3 separate regions of the Homo sapiens genome follow, and all the other regions are reported to be linked to region 3. Evidence: microRNA targets listed by miRTarBase, many of them from high-throughput screens and not tested one by one. Region 3 holds a microRNA gene; each other region holds the end of a gene's coding sequence.
Evidence for each region. Region 3 holds the annotated microRNA hsa-miR-4717-3p (ACACAUGGGUGGCUGUGGCCU, at 3,677-3,697, opposite strand). A microRNA usually pairs through its seed, bases 2 to 8, with sites in the 3' UTR of a target mRNA and lowers its output. Matches are read on the target gene's strand: a 7mer-m8 pairs with bases 2 to 8, a 7mer-A1 pairs with bases 2 to 7 and ends in A, and an 8mer does both.

Region 1: miRTarBase lists PNMA8A as a target of hsa-miR-4717-3p. Seed matches in the 3' UTR shown: 7mer-m8 at 1,823-1,829.
Region 2: miRTarBase lists ZNF485 as a target of hsa-miR-4717-3p. Seed matches in the 3' UTR shown: 7mer-A1 at 877-883.

Annotation. Positions count from the first base shown.
Region 1 is chr19:46,464,187-46,469,186 of GRCh38, reverse strand. It overlaps PNMA8A (PNMA family member 8A), which reads left to right. Exons shown (of 3, transcript NM_018215.4): 3 at 610-2,684. The coding sequence ends at 626. Among named protein-coding and RNA genes, the nearest start is that of PNMA8A, 4.9 kb to the left of the region's middle.
Region 2 is chr10:43,616,838-43,621,837 of GRCh38, forward strand. It overlaps ZNF485 (zinc finger protein 485), which reads left to right. Exons shown (of 5, transcript NM_145312.4): 5 at 1-1,067. The coding sequence ends at 532. Among named protein-coding and RNA genes, the nearest start is that of ZNF32-AS3, 9.5 kb to the right of the region's middle.
Region 3 is chr16:2,272,915-2,278,357 of GRCh38, reverse strand. It overlaps MIR4717 (microRNA 4717), which reads right to left and starts at 3,738; the gene lies at 3,667-3,738. It overlaps ABCA3 (ATP binding cassette subfamily A member 3), which reads left to right. Exons shown (of 33, transcript NM_001089.3): 30 at 1-70; 31 at 289-479; 32 at 688-761; 33 at 1,553-2,477. The coding sequence ends at 1,684. MIR3677HG (MIR3677 and MIR940 host gene) reads right to left here. Exons shown (of 3, transcript NR_132988.1): 3 at 5,286-5,371.

The sequences.
Region 1 (5,000 bases), not on the chromosome of region 3:
CAGTGAGCCTAGATTGTGCCACTGCCCTCCAGCCTGGGTGACGAGAGTGAGACTCTTGTCTCCAAAAAAAAAAAAAAGAATTTAATGATTTGGGAGGCCAAGGCAGACAGATCACCTGAGGTCAGGAGTTCGAGACCAGCCTGGCCAACATGGTGAAACCCCATCTCTACTAAAAATACAAAAATTAGCTGGGCATGGTGGTTTGTGCCTGTAATCCCAGCTACTGGGGAGGCCAAGGCCTGGGATTGGCCTCCAGACATCTGCCCACCAGATGTCTCCAGCATCGGCCTTCAGGGGCTCCTGGAAGGGCGGTCTGGGCTCTTACCCTCCCTGAACCTGGGAGGTGGAGGTTGCAGGGAGCCAAGATCACACTGCTGCACTCCAGCCTGGGCGATAGAGTGAAACCCTGTTCCCCCCTCCCCCCAAAAAAAATATTAATACTTTGGAGTTATGGTGTTTGCAGGGTATGTGGCTTTAAGGGTGAAGTTTTCTAGAGACCTGGCTGGGGAATAGAAATGTTCAGGGACCCAGAAATTTCTTGGAAGTAATGCATTTCCTAATGACACCTCTCTGCTTCCCTTCTTGATCTGTTCTCTCATTTATTTGCAGAATCCAGAAAGGTTTGATCTGGGGGACCACCCATACTGAGGAGTTGAAAGAACAAGGAAGAAGTACCAAGTCAACCAAGTTCTCTCTTGTCACTGAATAAGACTTTGGACTCTCTTAGGGCCCCTGTTGATAGAGATCTGGCCCTGAGGTAAACGATAGGTGAGGTCTTGGGTGGGAGGGAGTTGGGGAAGGGAGGTGGATCTCTATGCCCTTTTCTCTACCAGGCCTGCCGTTTCACCGCCTTCTCTACTCACCTTCTCTTCGGAGGCAGGAGAGTTGGTAAGAGGATTGGGAAAATTCTAGAACATTCATTCCCCTTTATGCATGAGCAGGGTCACTGTTACACTCATCCATGTTCAGCTTTTCTCCCCCACGCCTTGCTCCCTCCTCGGAATGGTCAGCGACCTCTGCAGGCCCTGGCATTTGGAAGAGCTGGGTGGCCCTGCCATATTCTTCCTCCCGCCTTCCTCTCGTGTAACCAGCGGGGTAAGTTAAGCCAGGACCTTCGCTGCAAACCTGGTTTTATTGCTCCTTCAGTCTCCAGCTTCCATCCTCCAGTTATCTAGCCAGGAGGTCCCAAGAGTTAGTTTTAGGGAAAAAGAATGTCTGCCTAGACCTCAAAGTCTTTGAGTTTTAGAGTCTGTTAGTAAAAATGGCACTTTGATTCCCATTTGGGATGAGCCCTCTCAGGAATCCTGTGGGGAAGGGGGGTGATTATAGGGAAGGACGCAGGCATTCCTAGGTCCCCAGCTCTAATTCCATCCATCTACCCAACTGTCACCATCTTTGCACCAAACTGTCACCATCTTTGCAGCAGAAGGTCACTACTCACATTATAGTAAGAGGGGAAAAAAATCTTTTAAAACTTGGCTGTTGGCCGGGCACGGTGGCTCACGCCTGTAATCCCAGCACTTTGGGAGGCTGAGGCAGGTCGATCACGAGGTCAGGCGTTTAAGACCAGCTTGACCAACATGGTGAAACCCCATCTCTACAAAAATTAGCTGGGCGTGGTGGCGCGCGCCTGTAATCCCAGCTACTCAGGAGGCTGAGGCAGATGAATTGCTTGAATCCAGGAGGCAGAGGTTGCAATGAGCCGAGATTGTGCCACGGCACTCCAGCCTGGGCAGCAGAGTGAGACTCTCTCTCAAAAAAACAAAACTTGGCTGTTAATGTCTGCCCTCTGAATTCAGACACACTATATTAGACCAGACCACCATGTGTCATTGTGTGTGTGTGTGTGTGTGTTTGCGTGCGCATGTGTAGAGGAGAGAGCAGGGTCCCTGAGATAATGGTTTCCAAACTGTATCGTAGCCGTCCACAAAGATGTAATCCAAATCTATTTTTCTCACGTGTTTAAAAAACTGAAAAGTGACTACTCAGATATGTTGGAAGTCACATCGAAGACTATCAGAATATTACCTTGTGTTCATAGGTTAACTTGTTTTTGTACACGTCTTAGTTATTTCAGGCATCTCTTTGCTTAAAATTGAGTTTCTTGTAAATGTGACTGATGAGCGAGGTTAGAAGTGGAAGAAATTCCTGTGCATGTTCTATAATCTGACACCCTGAAAGCAAGTTTCCTTTCGTCATTCACATGCTCTTGTTCTGCCGTGACTGTTCAGGTGTATGGTAGTAAGTAAATGTATTAACATGGTGAACAGTAGTAATATTCTATCATAGAGTATTAGCCCTTGCAAGTTTTCAGGGCGTCTTTTCCGACTTCAGTTTTTGTGATAAAGAATGTGAACAGTTGTTAGATGTTCTCAGTGATTCAACTTTAAAACAAATTTCTCGTGATGATTCATTTCAAAATCCTGAGTGAGTCTGACTGAAAAATACGAGAGAAAAGAGAGTGGTTTCCGTTTGCAGCTACACAGCTGTGTGCATCGACGTTCTCCTGGGGTGTGTGCCAAGCGAAACCCAGGGGTGAATTGGATTCTTGAAGAGACCAAAGCCTGTAACTGTCCAGCTTCTAATTTCAAAACGGGTCCATTAGGGCTTCGTTGTGTTAACAAGTTGACACCATGACTAGTAAATGTAAACGTGTATGTATAAAATAAAGTTTAGCAAATTAAGTGTCCTGTTAAGTCTCTTGTAGGTGAGGATTGCATGGACTATTAAATTTGAGGAAAGGGTTCCCCTTTCCTCAAACAGTGCCCCCAGCCAGATGTGACTGGTTATCAGATACGGGTTCAAGCTTTGAGAATTGTTAATGATCCATGAGAGAAGAAGCCGTTTGTCCTCTTTGCGAATGGCTTTCCACTGATGTGGAAGGATGTCCCACAGATCTTGGGGTTTCTAGAATAGGTATCTGGTGACGCAAATTACCTCAAAGTACCAGTTTATTTTTTTATAAACAGCTGGAAAATGAAAACCTTTCCCTCCCTTCCTATTCCCTCACACAGAAGCCAAGGTCTTTTTTTTTTTTTTTTTTTGAGATGGAGTTTCGCTCTGTCACCCAGGTGGGAGTGCAGTGGCACAGTCTCAGCCCACTGCAGCCTCTACCTCCTGGGCTCAAGTGATCTGCCCACCTCGGCCTCCCAAAGCGTTGGGATTACAGGTGTAAGCCACCATGCCAAGCCAGAAGCTGAGGTCTTTTAGCTAAAAATATAGTTTTCTTCTGGCCCTCCCCTGCCCCTCCCCAGGAACTCCTGAACCAGGGTGGCCACTACATCAGTCACTTGGAATCTGTTCAAGGTACCATTTCGTGGCTCTACCTGCTGATTCAGGATCTCTTCGGGGTTGTACATAGTTATCTGCGTCTTAAACAGTTTCTCCTGAGAATTTTTTTTTTTTTTTTTTGAGACGGAGTCTCGCTCTGTCTCCTAGGCTGGAGTGCAGTATCATGATCTCAGCTCACTGCAACCTCTGCCTCCCGGGTTCAAGCGATTCTCCTGCCTCAGCCTCCCAAGTAGCTGGGACTACAGGGGTGCGCCACCACGCCCAGCTAATATTTTTGTATTTTTTTTAGTAGAGATGGAGTTTCACCATGTTGGCCAGGATGGCCTCGATCTCTGATCTCTTGACCTCGTGATCCGCCCACCTCAGCCTCCCAAAGTGCTGGGATGACAGGCGTGAGCCACCACGCCCAGCCAAGAATTCTATTAATAATACAGGTTGGAGAGCTTCAGGTGGAATAATTCAGACTTGGGGAAACGGAAGTGTCCTTAGGGGTCCAGGTTGAGGTTTTGTGAAAGTGAATGGAGATTATGAGGAAAGATGCGAAAGAGACCAAAAGGGAAGCTGGGATTTGAGGACGCGGAGCTCGTTAGGAACTGCCGTGTACTCATAGAAGCATCTGGATGAAGCTCTATTTATTGGGTGCCCCCACACCCCCACAATGGGAAAAGCCCTATTTGACCAAGATGTTTAAGTACCTCCCACAATAATAGTCACTCCTACTGGTTACACCCAGGCTGTCAGTAAAGTATGAAAGGCCTACGTGCCCTAAAAATGGGGGGAATCCAAGGTTGGGGCACATGAAAGCTCTCTTCAAAGAAACCTCATCGCCCCGGGTGGAGGTGTTCTGTTCAGGGGTGCGTCTGGGGAGGCGCTGGCCCGGAGTGTTTGCAGGAAGATGGAGAGCTGTGGATGCCACCAGCAGGGCTCGAGGGCAAAGTGTCCTGGTTGCCCATGCTGCCATTCAAGCAAGGTTCGTTGAGAATCTGCTGTACGACAGCCAGGAGCAAGACAGAGTCCTGGCTTCCTGGAGCCTGACGTTTGAGTGAGGACAGACCTTATATAGACACAGGTGGAGGGGTGGGGAGCTCTGCCGTGAAAAATATAACAGGAAGATAGGCAGGCAAGGTGAGTGTGCAGAAACGGCTGGCTGTCGCTTACAATGGTTGGGGGAGCCTCTCTGGGAACTGGATGTCTGAACAGACCTGAAGGGGGTGAGGGGTGAGACAAGCAGTTGGCCAAGAACGGCCTCCTGGGCAGAGGGAACAGTCATCGTGGAGGGAGGCTCTAATCTGTTTCAGAAAGTGAGTAAGGCTGGGCGCAGTGGCTCACACCTGTAATCCCAGCACTTTGGGAGGCCAAGGCGGGCAGATCACCTGAGGTCAGGAGTTCAAGACCAGCCTGGCCAACATGGTGAAACCCCATCTCTACTAAAAATACAAAAAAATTAGCCAGGTGTGATGGCGCGTGCCTGTGGTCCCAGCTACTTGGGAGGCTGAGGCAGGAGAATTGCTTGAACCCAGGAGGTTGAGACTGCAGTGAGCTGAGATCGCACCACTGCACTCCAGCCTGGGCGACAGAGCAAGACTCTGTCTCAAAAAAATAAAAATAAAAAAGCAAGGAGGAGGTGAGGAGCAAGAGGGCAGGGGGCTTTGGAGGCTGGTGTGCAAAGCCCCACAGGTGCGGCCAGGATGGATTCCAGCTTTAATCTG
Region 2 (5,000 bases), not on the chromosome of region 3:
TGGAGAGAAGCCTTTTAAATGTAACAAGTGTGGGAGAGCTTTCAGGGATAATTCAACTGTGTTGGAACATCAGAAAATCCATACTGGTGAGAAGCCATATCAGTGTAATGAATGTGGAAAAGCCTTTAGGAAGAGCTCAACTCTTATTAGTCACCAAAGAATGCATACTGGGGAGAAACCCTATCACTGCAGTAAATGTGGAAAATCTTTCAGGTATAGCTCATCCTTTGCTGGTCATCAGAAAACTCACAGTGGAAATAAACCGTATCAGTGTCGTGACTGTGGGAAGGCCTTTACAAAGAGCTCAACCCTTACTGGACATCAGAGAATTCATACTGGAGAAAAACCCTATCACTGTAAGAAATGTGGGAAAGCCTTTCGGCACAGCTCAGGCCTTGTTGAACATCAGAGACTCCATACTGGGGAAAAACCTTATAAATGTAATGAATGTGGGAAAGCTTTTCCCCGAAGTTCAGCCCTTAAGCAACATAAGAAAATTCATAATAAAGAAAGAGCCATGAAATGTAGTTAGTGTGGCAAATTGTGCAGAGTAGTTTATTCCTTCTGACCATCATAGAGGAGACATTAAATAAATTATGCATTTAACAGAAATACTCTGTACTTCTGAGAGAACACATCACTTGTGAGGATATTCATTGTGAGGTTCTACTAGTGAAATATTTGAAGAAACTAAATGTATGTCAGTATGGAAGTAGTTATAGCATACTGTGTGCTAATTGAAAAGAATGAGGTGGAGCTGTAAATACTGTACAAAGCCAGGCATGGTGGCATATGCCTGTAGTCCCAGTTACTTGGGAGGCTGAGACAGGATTGCTTAAGCCCAGGAGTTTGAGTCTGTAATGCACTATGATTGTGCATGTGAATAGCCACTGCACTCCAGCCTGGGCAACATAGCAAGACTCCATCTCTAAGTAAAAAAATACAACAGTAGAAATATACCCATGATAATATACCCAATATACCCTTGTTAAAGAAGCAAGTTTCAGGAAATCTATATTATATGCATTCAAAAAGACCTGGACAAATAAAGACCAATCTTAACAGCAGTTATCTCTCTCTCTCTCTCTTTTTTTTTTTTTTTAAAAGAAACTAGCTCTTACTCTGTCACCCAGGCTGGAGTGCCATGTGATCATAGCTCACTGTAGTTTTGAACTTGGGCTTGAACAACCTTCCCACTTCAGTCTCTGGAGTAGCTGGGGCTACAGGCACGTACCACCACACTCAGCTAACAGCAGTTATCTTTGATGAGGATGTAGTATAGGTTGAGCATCCATAACTGGAAAATCTGAAATCTGAAGTGCTCCAAAATCCAAAATTTGTCTGAGCACCAACAGGTACAAAATTCTACACCAGACCTTATGTGATGGGTTGCAGTTAAAATGCACCCCCGGCCGGGCGCGGTGGCTCACGCCTGTAATCCCAGCACTTTGGGAGGCCGAGGCGGGTGGATCATGAGGTCAGGAGATCGAGACCATCCTGGCTAACAAGGTGAAACCCCGTCTCTACTAAAAATACAAAAAATTAGCCGGGCGCGGTGGCGGGCGCCTGTAGTCCCAGCTACTCAGGAGGCTGAGGCAGGAGAATGGCGTGAACCTGGGAAGCGGAGCTTGCAGTGAGCCGAGATTGCACCACTGCAGTCCGCAGTCCGGCCTGGGCGACAGAGCGAGACTCCGTCTCAAAAAAAAAAAAAAAAAAAAAAATGCACCCCCAAGATTCCTTATTATTTGCATGCAAATATTGCAAAGTCCAAAAAAGTCTGAAATCCTAAATACTTCTGGTCTCACGCATTTCAGACAAGGGATACTCGACCTATATTGGTATGATGAAGTGAAATTATGACTTTGACTGAGTTCTTTGAAATGAAATATTTAATCAAGCATCATTCATGTATCTTCTGTAACTTAGTATAGTTATCTTCCTATATAAGAAAACTCAGAAGTCATAAAAATAAGACAAATGCCACACAGAAACTAAAAGCTTTTAGTTTCTGCAACTAGAGGCTTCGTAGTATTAAAATACAAAGGGCTGGACTTGGAGAAAATATTACCATCATCATATTTAACAGGTAACACTTAGACTATTTAGAGAGTCCTTAAAATACATAAATATAAAAATTCCAGTGGAGAAATGGTCTTGGATGTGAATGTACAGTTGTCAGAAAAAGAAATATAAATGATTATGCCTACCAACTTTGACCTTTTGACCTAACATTTCTACTTAAAATCTAATTAAAAAGTAAAGGTGGTCTTTACAGCATTGTAGTAATGAAGAGGTGGAATCACTGTAATATCTGTCATCAGAGGAATGTTGAAGATACATGCAGTCTTTGGACTACCATGTAGTCACTCAACATTTAATTAAAAGACAGTCCTTTAATTAATTAACATTTGGTGAGTTAGACTTTTATGAGCTGACAGGCAAAGTTGTCTATGACATTAAGTTGAAAAAGATCCAAAGTAAAGAATAATGGTATAGTACTTCTTTTGTATAGTCAATGCATTGCCTGAATATTTTGTGATAAAAATATATCATGGATATAGTTCACAATGTAAAAGCAATAAAGCAAACTTAGGAATGTTATAAAATAGAAAAGAAAGGATCTAAGTATTCAACTGATGATTGCAGAGGGCCAGATTTAATCAAAAGAAGCACGGCTGCACACACATAGATGATTGTTGGTAAGAACTGGTTAAGCTGCTTTGGATAACAGTTTGGCAACATGAATGTAAATGTAAATGTATGTTCTAATTGACCCAGAAATGCCACCCTCAAACATTTAAGGAAATAATTTGACTAACTTACAGAGCTTGTATTGCTCATCGTCATTGGTTATACTAATATCCTGGAAAGAGGTGGGAGAAATATCTAAGTAGGGAAATGTTTAAATAAGTTATGAAACTCTCATAGGCTAGCATCCCAGTTACTACAGATGTATAATAAACCGTCACACACTTAGTTGCCAGTATTTGTGTTCACAGATTTTGTGAGTCAAGGATTCAGAAAGGGCACAGCAGGAACAGCTTTGTAACTCCATGATGTCTGGGGTTTCAGTTGGGAAAACTCAAGGTTGGAATCAACAGTTGGTCAGTGGGGTCATTTGAAGCGGCCACACTATGATAGCCACAAGTGGCTACTGAGCAGTTGAAGTGAGGCCAGTCTGAATGGAGACTAGTGTGTTGATTGAAAATAGGACTGTAAGTATAAAATGTGCATCAGATTTCGAAGACTTTGTATAAAAAAAGAAACTAAACTATCTTAATGGTTTTTATATTGATTATATTTTAGATAGATTAAACTCAATGTATTAAAATTGAATTTTAATGTGACTACTAGAAAATTTAAATTTACATATGTGGCCTACATGTATGGTTCGCATGTTGCTATCAGACAACACAACTGAAGGCTCCATCACAAATTGGGTGGTTGATGCTGTTGGCTGGGACCTCAGCTAGGGCAGTTGCATATGAACACCTACATGTGACCTTTTTATGTGGCTGCATAGGCCTCCTCAGCTTGGTGCCTGGGTTCTGAGGAGTCAGGCAGAGAAACTGTTATTGCTTGTTGTGATCTAGCATCAGAAATAACAGCATCTCGGCTGGGCGTGGTGGCTCATACCTGTAATCCCAGCACTTTTAGAGGCTGAGGTGGGTGGATTGCTTGGGGCCAGGAGTTCAAGACCAGTCTTGGCAACTTGGTGAAGCCCTGTCTCTACAAAAAAATACAAAAAAATTAGCCAGGTCTGTGGCACGTGCCTGTAGTGCTGGGGAGGCTGAGGTGGGATGACTGCTTGAGCCTGGGAGGCAGAGGTTACAGTGAACCAAGATTGCACCACTGCACTCCAGTCTGGGCAACTGGAGTGAGACCTTGTCTCAAACAAACAAACAATAACGACAACAAAAAATTCAGTGTCTCTTTCTCCATAGTCAAGCCTGTCCAAACTCAAAGGGGAGGGAACATAGAACATACTTCTTTGGAGGAGTATCAGAGTCACATTGCCAGAAAAGTATATTCGATGGAATATATTATTGCAATAATTTTGGAAAATATGATCTATCATGGAATATGATACAACCATTAAAAAGGATAAAGTGGATATGTTGGATGAAGAAATAGGTTACAGGACAGTATCTGAAAGCTTATGGCAGCAACTTTGAAGTATAATCTTTGGAGTCAGGGTGCAAGATGCAGCTTACCTCTTAATATACTTTGTGAAACCACTGGCTAGTTATGTAGCCTGTTGAATTGTCTACCATGTACAGATAAAAAAAAAACTAGTTTTGTTTAAAGGAGGTAATTTTATAAAGTGCTTAGCTGAATACCAGATGCAAAGTGCAAGGTAAATGTTAGCTGGTGCTGTGTTAGTGATACTCATTTCTGTTTTTTTTTAAAAATGTATAGTATGTATATATGTACATGCACACATATATATGTACACATGTATATACATATATTTCACCTATATATTTTTTTAAAATATAAAATTAAAATTTCTGCATAAAAATATAAAATAAAAAAATTTCTCTCATATATATATATGAGAGGTCTCTTACAGAATTGATTAAAGATCTCAAAAGAACATGCTCCACCATCATCTATATCGTGTGCACAAGGCTCAAGAGGGACCAGTGGTTTTACCCACTGTCAAACACCATGAACAAAGCCTGGGTACTGGCTTGTCTTATTGAGGAAACCTACTTTAACATATGAAAACGAATAAAATATTTCAAAATGGTAATGATAATTATGGGATTTTTGGTAATGTATTTCATTTAAGAAGTTTTCATTTAAAAGAATAGGGTGTTTATTCAAAATGGGACAAGACAGGACAATAAAAGAAAGCTGACCAATATTCCTTATGAGCATAGAAGCAAAAATCTTGAATAGAATATTAGCGAATAAAATCCAGCAATATATAGAATTAATAATATAGAATCATGATCAAATGGGGTTACGGCTGGTTCAGTGTTTGGAAATCAATC
Region 3 (5,443 bases):
GGCGCCTGCTTTGGGACACCGTGGCACGAGCCCGAGAGTCTGGCAAGGCCATCATCATCACCTCCCACAGGTAGAGCCTGGGTCTGTGGGTTACTGGAAGTTTCAGCACCGGGTGGGCCATGGAGGAGCCAGGTGGCCAGGAGACCCATCAGCATCTGGTGCAGAGTCTGCCCGTGAGCCACACTGAGCATGGGTATCAGGAACAGCCTGATCGGAGAGCCAATGCCTTCCTGTCTGCACAAGCCTTTGGCACCCCAAGCCCTATCTGAGGTCCCGCCCTCTCCACAGCATGGAGGAGTGTGAGGCCCTGTGCACCCGGCTGGCCATCATGGTGCAGGGGCAGTTCAAGTGCCTGGGCAGCCCCCAGCACCTCAAGAGCAAGTTCGGCAGCGGCTACTCCCTGCGGGCCAAGGTGCAGAGTGAAGGGCAACAGGAGGCGCTGGAGGAGTTCAAGGCCTTCGTGGACCTGACCTTTCCAGGTGTGTGCCGGCCCCGGCAGCCCCCACTGGGTGGGCCCTGGGCCCCTACCTAGGCCTCTCCCATCTGCTGTGCGGAGCGTCTGTGCCTCGCCCCGCCAAGTCCCATCTCCCCAATCCCTGGGACGAGGACTCCAGTGCTGAGCACCCAGGCACCCTCCCCGATCCTCCAGCCCGGCGCTCACAGCAACACCGTCTCTCCTTTGTGCAGGCAGCGTCCTGGAAGATGAGCACCAAGGCATGGTCCATTACCACCTGCCGGGCCGTGACCTCAGCTGGGCGAAGGTGAGGCAGTCCCTGGGGCCCCACTGGGCACTCATGGGGCAGGGGGAGGTCCCTCCAGGGGTCTCTCCCTCTGTGGTGACTGCAGGCTCTTTCCACAGAGGAGTCACTTTCCATTTCTCCCCTAACACTCAGCCTGATACGTGCTGGTTTGGGGGTTTTATATCCAAAATTATCAGTGGTAAAAGGAATTCAGTGTAAAACAGGAAAGGGGTCAGGGATGGTGGCTCACACCATAATCCCAGCACTTTGGGAGGCCGAGGAGGGAGGATTGCTTAAGCCTGGGAGTTCTAGACCAGCCTGGGCAACATAGACCCCGTCTCTACAAAAAATTTAAAAATTAGCCAGGTATCATGCATACCTGTAGTCCCAGCCACTCGGGAGGCTAAGGTGGGAGGATCGCTTGAGCCTGGGAGTTCGAGACTGCAGTGAGCTATGATTGTGCCACTGCACTCCAGCCTGGGCTACAGAGCAAGACTCTCTCTAAAAAAATATGGGGGAAAAAAAGAACTGGCTCAGAAAGGGAACATCACTGGCTCAAGGTTGTAATCTGAGCTGGGAACAGCACAGGGAGGAGGCTGGGCCCCATCCCCGCTGGCTCCTGCTTAGCCAGCGTCCTCTACCTGGGAGCACGGTGCCGTCGCAGGGCTGACCTCTCTGGGGCTCTGGGGTGGCGCTGGGCAGGGGTAGGATTGTGGGGGCCTCATCAGCCCCTATTGCCAGAGGACTCCCAGGTCCCGCAGAGGAGCCTGGGCCCTGTTCTCTCCTACCAGTGACTTTTCTGCTCCCCAAAGGTTTTCGGTATTCTGGAGAAAGCCAAGGAAAAGTACGGCGTGGACGACTACTCCGTGAGCCAGATCTCGCTGGAACAGGTCTTCCTGAGCTTCGCCCACCTGCAGCCGCCCACCGCAGAGGAGGGGCGATGAGGGGTGGCGGCTGTCTCGCCATCAGGCAGGGACAGGACGGGCAAGCAGGGCCCATCTTACATCCTCTCTCTCCAAGTTTATCTCATCCTTTATTTTTAATCACTTTTTTCTATGATGGATATGAAAAATTCAAGGCAGTATGCACAGAATGGACGAGTGCAGCCCAGCCCTCATGCCCAGGATCAGCATGCGCATCTCCATGTCTGCATACTCTGGAGTTCACTTTCCCAGAGCTGGGGCAGGCCGGGCAGTCTGCGGGCAAGCTCCGGGGTCTCTGGGTGGAGAGCTGACCCAGGAAGGGCTGCAGCTGAGCTGGGGGTTGAATTTCTCCAGGCACTCCCTGGAGAGAGGACCCAGTGACTTGTCCAAGTTTACACACGACACTAATCTCCCCTGGGGAGGAAGCGGGAAGCCAGCCAGGTTGAACTGTAGCGAGGCCCCCAGGCCGCCAGGAATGGACCATGCAGATCACTGTCAGTGGAGGGAAGCTGCTGACTGTGATTAGGTGCTGGGGTCTTAGCGTCCAGCGCAGCCCGGGGGCATCCTGGAGGCTCTGCTCCTTAGGGCATGGTAGTCACCGCGAAGCCGGGCACCGTCCCACAGCATCTCCTAGAAGCAGCCGGCACAGGAGGGAAGGTGGCCAGGCTCGAAGCAGTCTCTGTTTCCAGCACTGCACCCTCAGGAAGTCGCCCGCCCCAGGACACGCAGGGACCACCCTAAGGGCTGGGTGGCTGTCTCAAGGACACATTGAATACGTTGTGACCATCCAGAAAATAAATGCTGAGGGGACACAGTCACAGTCTGTGGGTCACACGCGCGAGCGGTCACAGGGCTCAATCACTCGCCCACAATCTAGACATGAGGCTCTCCTTTCACATTTCAATCACACAAACGTGGGACGTTGCTTTTCCCAGAAGGGAGCACACGCAGAGAATACACTGAGGTGAAGGAACAGGCCCATAACACAAAGGAAAAAGCCGGCTAGATCAACGCCCGGTGACAGGCTCTTAGTCTAAAGACAAGAGCAGGTGGGGCTGTGTGGGAAGCACAGGTCTGGTGGGAGAGAAGCTGCTGGCATCAGGGTCACCCGTGGGCATTTGCCATTTCCCAGAAATAACTCCTCATCAGCTCCCTTTTTAGTTATTTATGGAGTCTTGCTTTGTTGCCCAGGCTGGAGTGCAGTGGCGCAATCTTGGCTCACTGCAACTTCTGCCTCCCGGGTTCAAGCCATTCTCCTGCCTCTGCCTCCCGAGTAGCTGGGACAACAGGCACGCGCCACCACACCCAGCTAATTTTTGTGTTTTTAGTAGAGACGGGGTTTCACCATCTTGGTCAGCCTGGTCTCGAACTCCTGACCTGAAGTGATCCACCCACCTCAGACTCCCAAAGTACTGGGATTACAGCCATAAGCCACCGTGCCTGGCCCCTTTTTATGCACTGTTTTGTGTTTTGTCTTTTGGAGACAGGATCTTGCTCTGCTGCCCAGCGTGGAGTGCAGTGGTGGTATCACAGCTCACTGCAGCCTCAAACACCTGGGCTCATGCAATCCTCCCACCCCAGCCTCCGGAGTGGCTGGGACTAAGGGCATGCGCCACCATGCATGGCTAAATTTTATTTTTAGTATAGACGAGGTCTCATGTTGGCCAGGCTGCTGCCAAACCCCTGACCTCAAGTGATCCACCTGCCTTGGCCTCCCAAAGTGCTGGGATCACAGGCGTGAGCCACCATGCCCGGCGAATGCACTATTATTTCTTATGGTTTTCTAAACCCGATTTGAACTTCTGCATTTTACATTCCCTTAGAATTCAGAGTTTTAGAAAAGACTTGTTTTCATCACTTTGGCTCATTTGGGACAATTTCAAGTCTGTGTTTTTATCAGTCTCTGGAAATTTATGAAAGCTGCAAATCGTCTCCAGTAGCTCTTTTATTCCCTTTAAACTTCTGCCATCTAGTTCCATGTTATAAAAAATATAACGTGTTTGGGCAGTGTTTAGGCCACAGCCACCCATGTGTAGCCACCCCTACACATGGGTGGCTGTGGCCTAAACACTGCCCACGAGAAAAGTTCTGAAGTGGGCCCTTCTGGCCCCACAGCCTGTCCGCAGGGGCTGTGGCCTCTAGGTCGGGCCTGGGGCTAGGAAGAGGGAAAGGTCAGTGCACGAGGCCACCCAGCTCCATGTCCATGCCCATGGCCCTTCTGCAGGGCATCCTCAGACTTGTTTTCAAGCCCATGTGTTAGAGATTTAGGAATGTGTCATTTTTCTCCTGTGACACCCTAAAAGAGGGTTGGGGAGAGCGTATAGGACTGAGGGCACAGCCCGCATGAGGCACACACGTGTGAGGCCAGCGTACACAGGACACGCACAGGAGATACCATCCTTCCCGGTAGCACGCTGCCAGCACCAGCAGGGGTCTTTAAGTAAGGACTGGCACAAGTAGAATGCCTTCTTAGGAAAATGATCCGCAGCTCAGGAGGCTGCTGCGTGGGGACCGGGAGGGGCAGGTGCATTCAGGGCGTCTGTGGCAGGGGCCCAGGGCTGCACCCAAGCCTGGAGCTTAGATGACCCCAGGAGCAGCAGGAAGGGCCCATCTGGCATCCCAGGGAAATCCTCAAGGCCTCTGGAAACTCAGTGCTGGAGCTGGGTCACCAGGGGTGCCCTAAGGAGCCTGGGACTGAAGCCTCAGGACCCTGCCCTGGCCGATTTTTGTCTGAGCTGTGGCAGTTCCCAGCCCACGGGAGGGCAGGGGAAAAGAGCCTTGGGCCCAGGGATAGGAGTGACCGGCCTATCCACGCTCCACCCTAGACCACGGAGGGGGGCCACACATTCTCTACGGACACTGTCCCCAAACAACTGTGGCATCTGACAGAGCCAACTCCTGCCCTGCTCCCAGTTCACCTTAGACCTGGGAAACGAGGTTTTGACTTCACTGCTCTGCATGGCCTGGTGCAGGGCTCCCGTGAGCAGACGGCCCATGGGCCACGAGCCAGGTATGTGGAAGAGCCTGTGCCTTCTGTCCTCCAGGCCGGCCCAGTCCAACGGCGTGGCTCAACTGAAACCACACCCAGAACTCGGAGAGGGGAAGACCTCGCGGTGGGGCGGGCCCAGGCCAAGCCCCTCCACTGCCATCACAGGTTTACAGCGGAGCAGAGGGGCAGGCCGGATACAGGCAGCCCAGGCCACAGGTCAGGGGACCCACACCAGGCCACAGGAACAGGCTTGCTGAGGGTATCAGAAAACCCCAGGTCACAGTGGTTTGAAAAAGAAGTTTATTTCTCAGCCATGTAGGCAGGAGGAGGCAGTCCAGCACTCGGTCACCTGAGGTCTCAGGGAGGCAGGCTCCATCTGCTGCCCCGTCATCCTGGTTCACGCCTCCCTCCTCATGGTCACCTCTGTGTTCAAGGAAGTGCTTGGCCGGGCATGGTGGCTCACGCCTGTAATCCCAGCACTTTGGGAGGCCGAGGCAGGCGGATCATGAAGTCGAAAAATCAAGACCATCCTGGCTAACACGGTGAAACCCCGTCTCTACTAAAAATACAAAAAAATTAGCCGGGTGTGGTGGCGGGCACCTGTAGTCCCAGCTACTCAGGAGGCTGAGGCAAGAGAATGGCGTGAACCGGGGAGGCGGAGCTTGCAGTGAGCCGAGATCACGCCATTGCACTCCATCTGGACTACAGTGAGACTCCATCTAAAAAAAAAAAAAAAAAGGAAGTGCTCAAGTTCAGGCCGGGGTAGGGTGTGTGCAGTGGCCTCCGTCAAG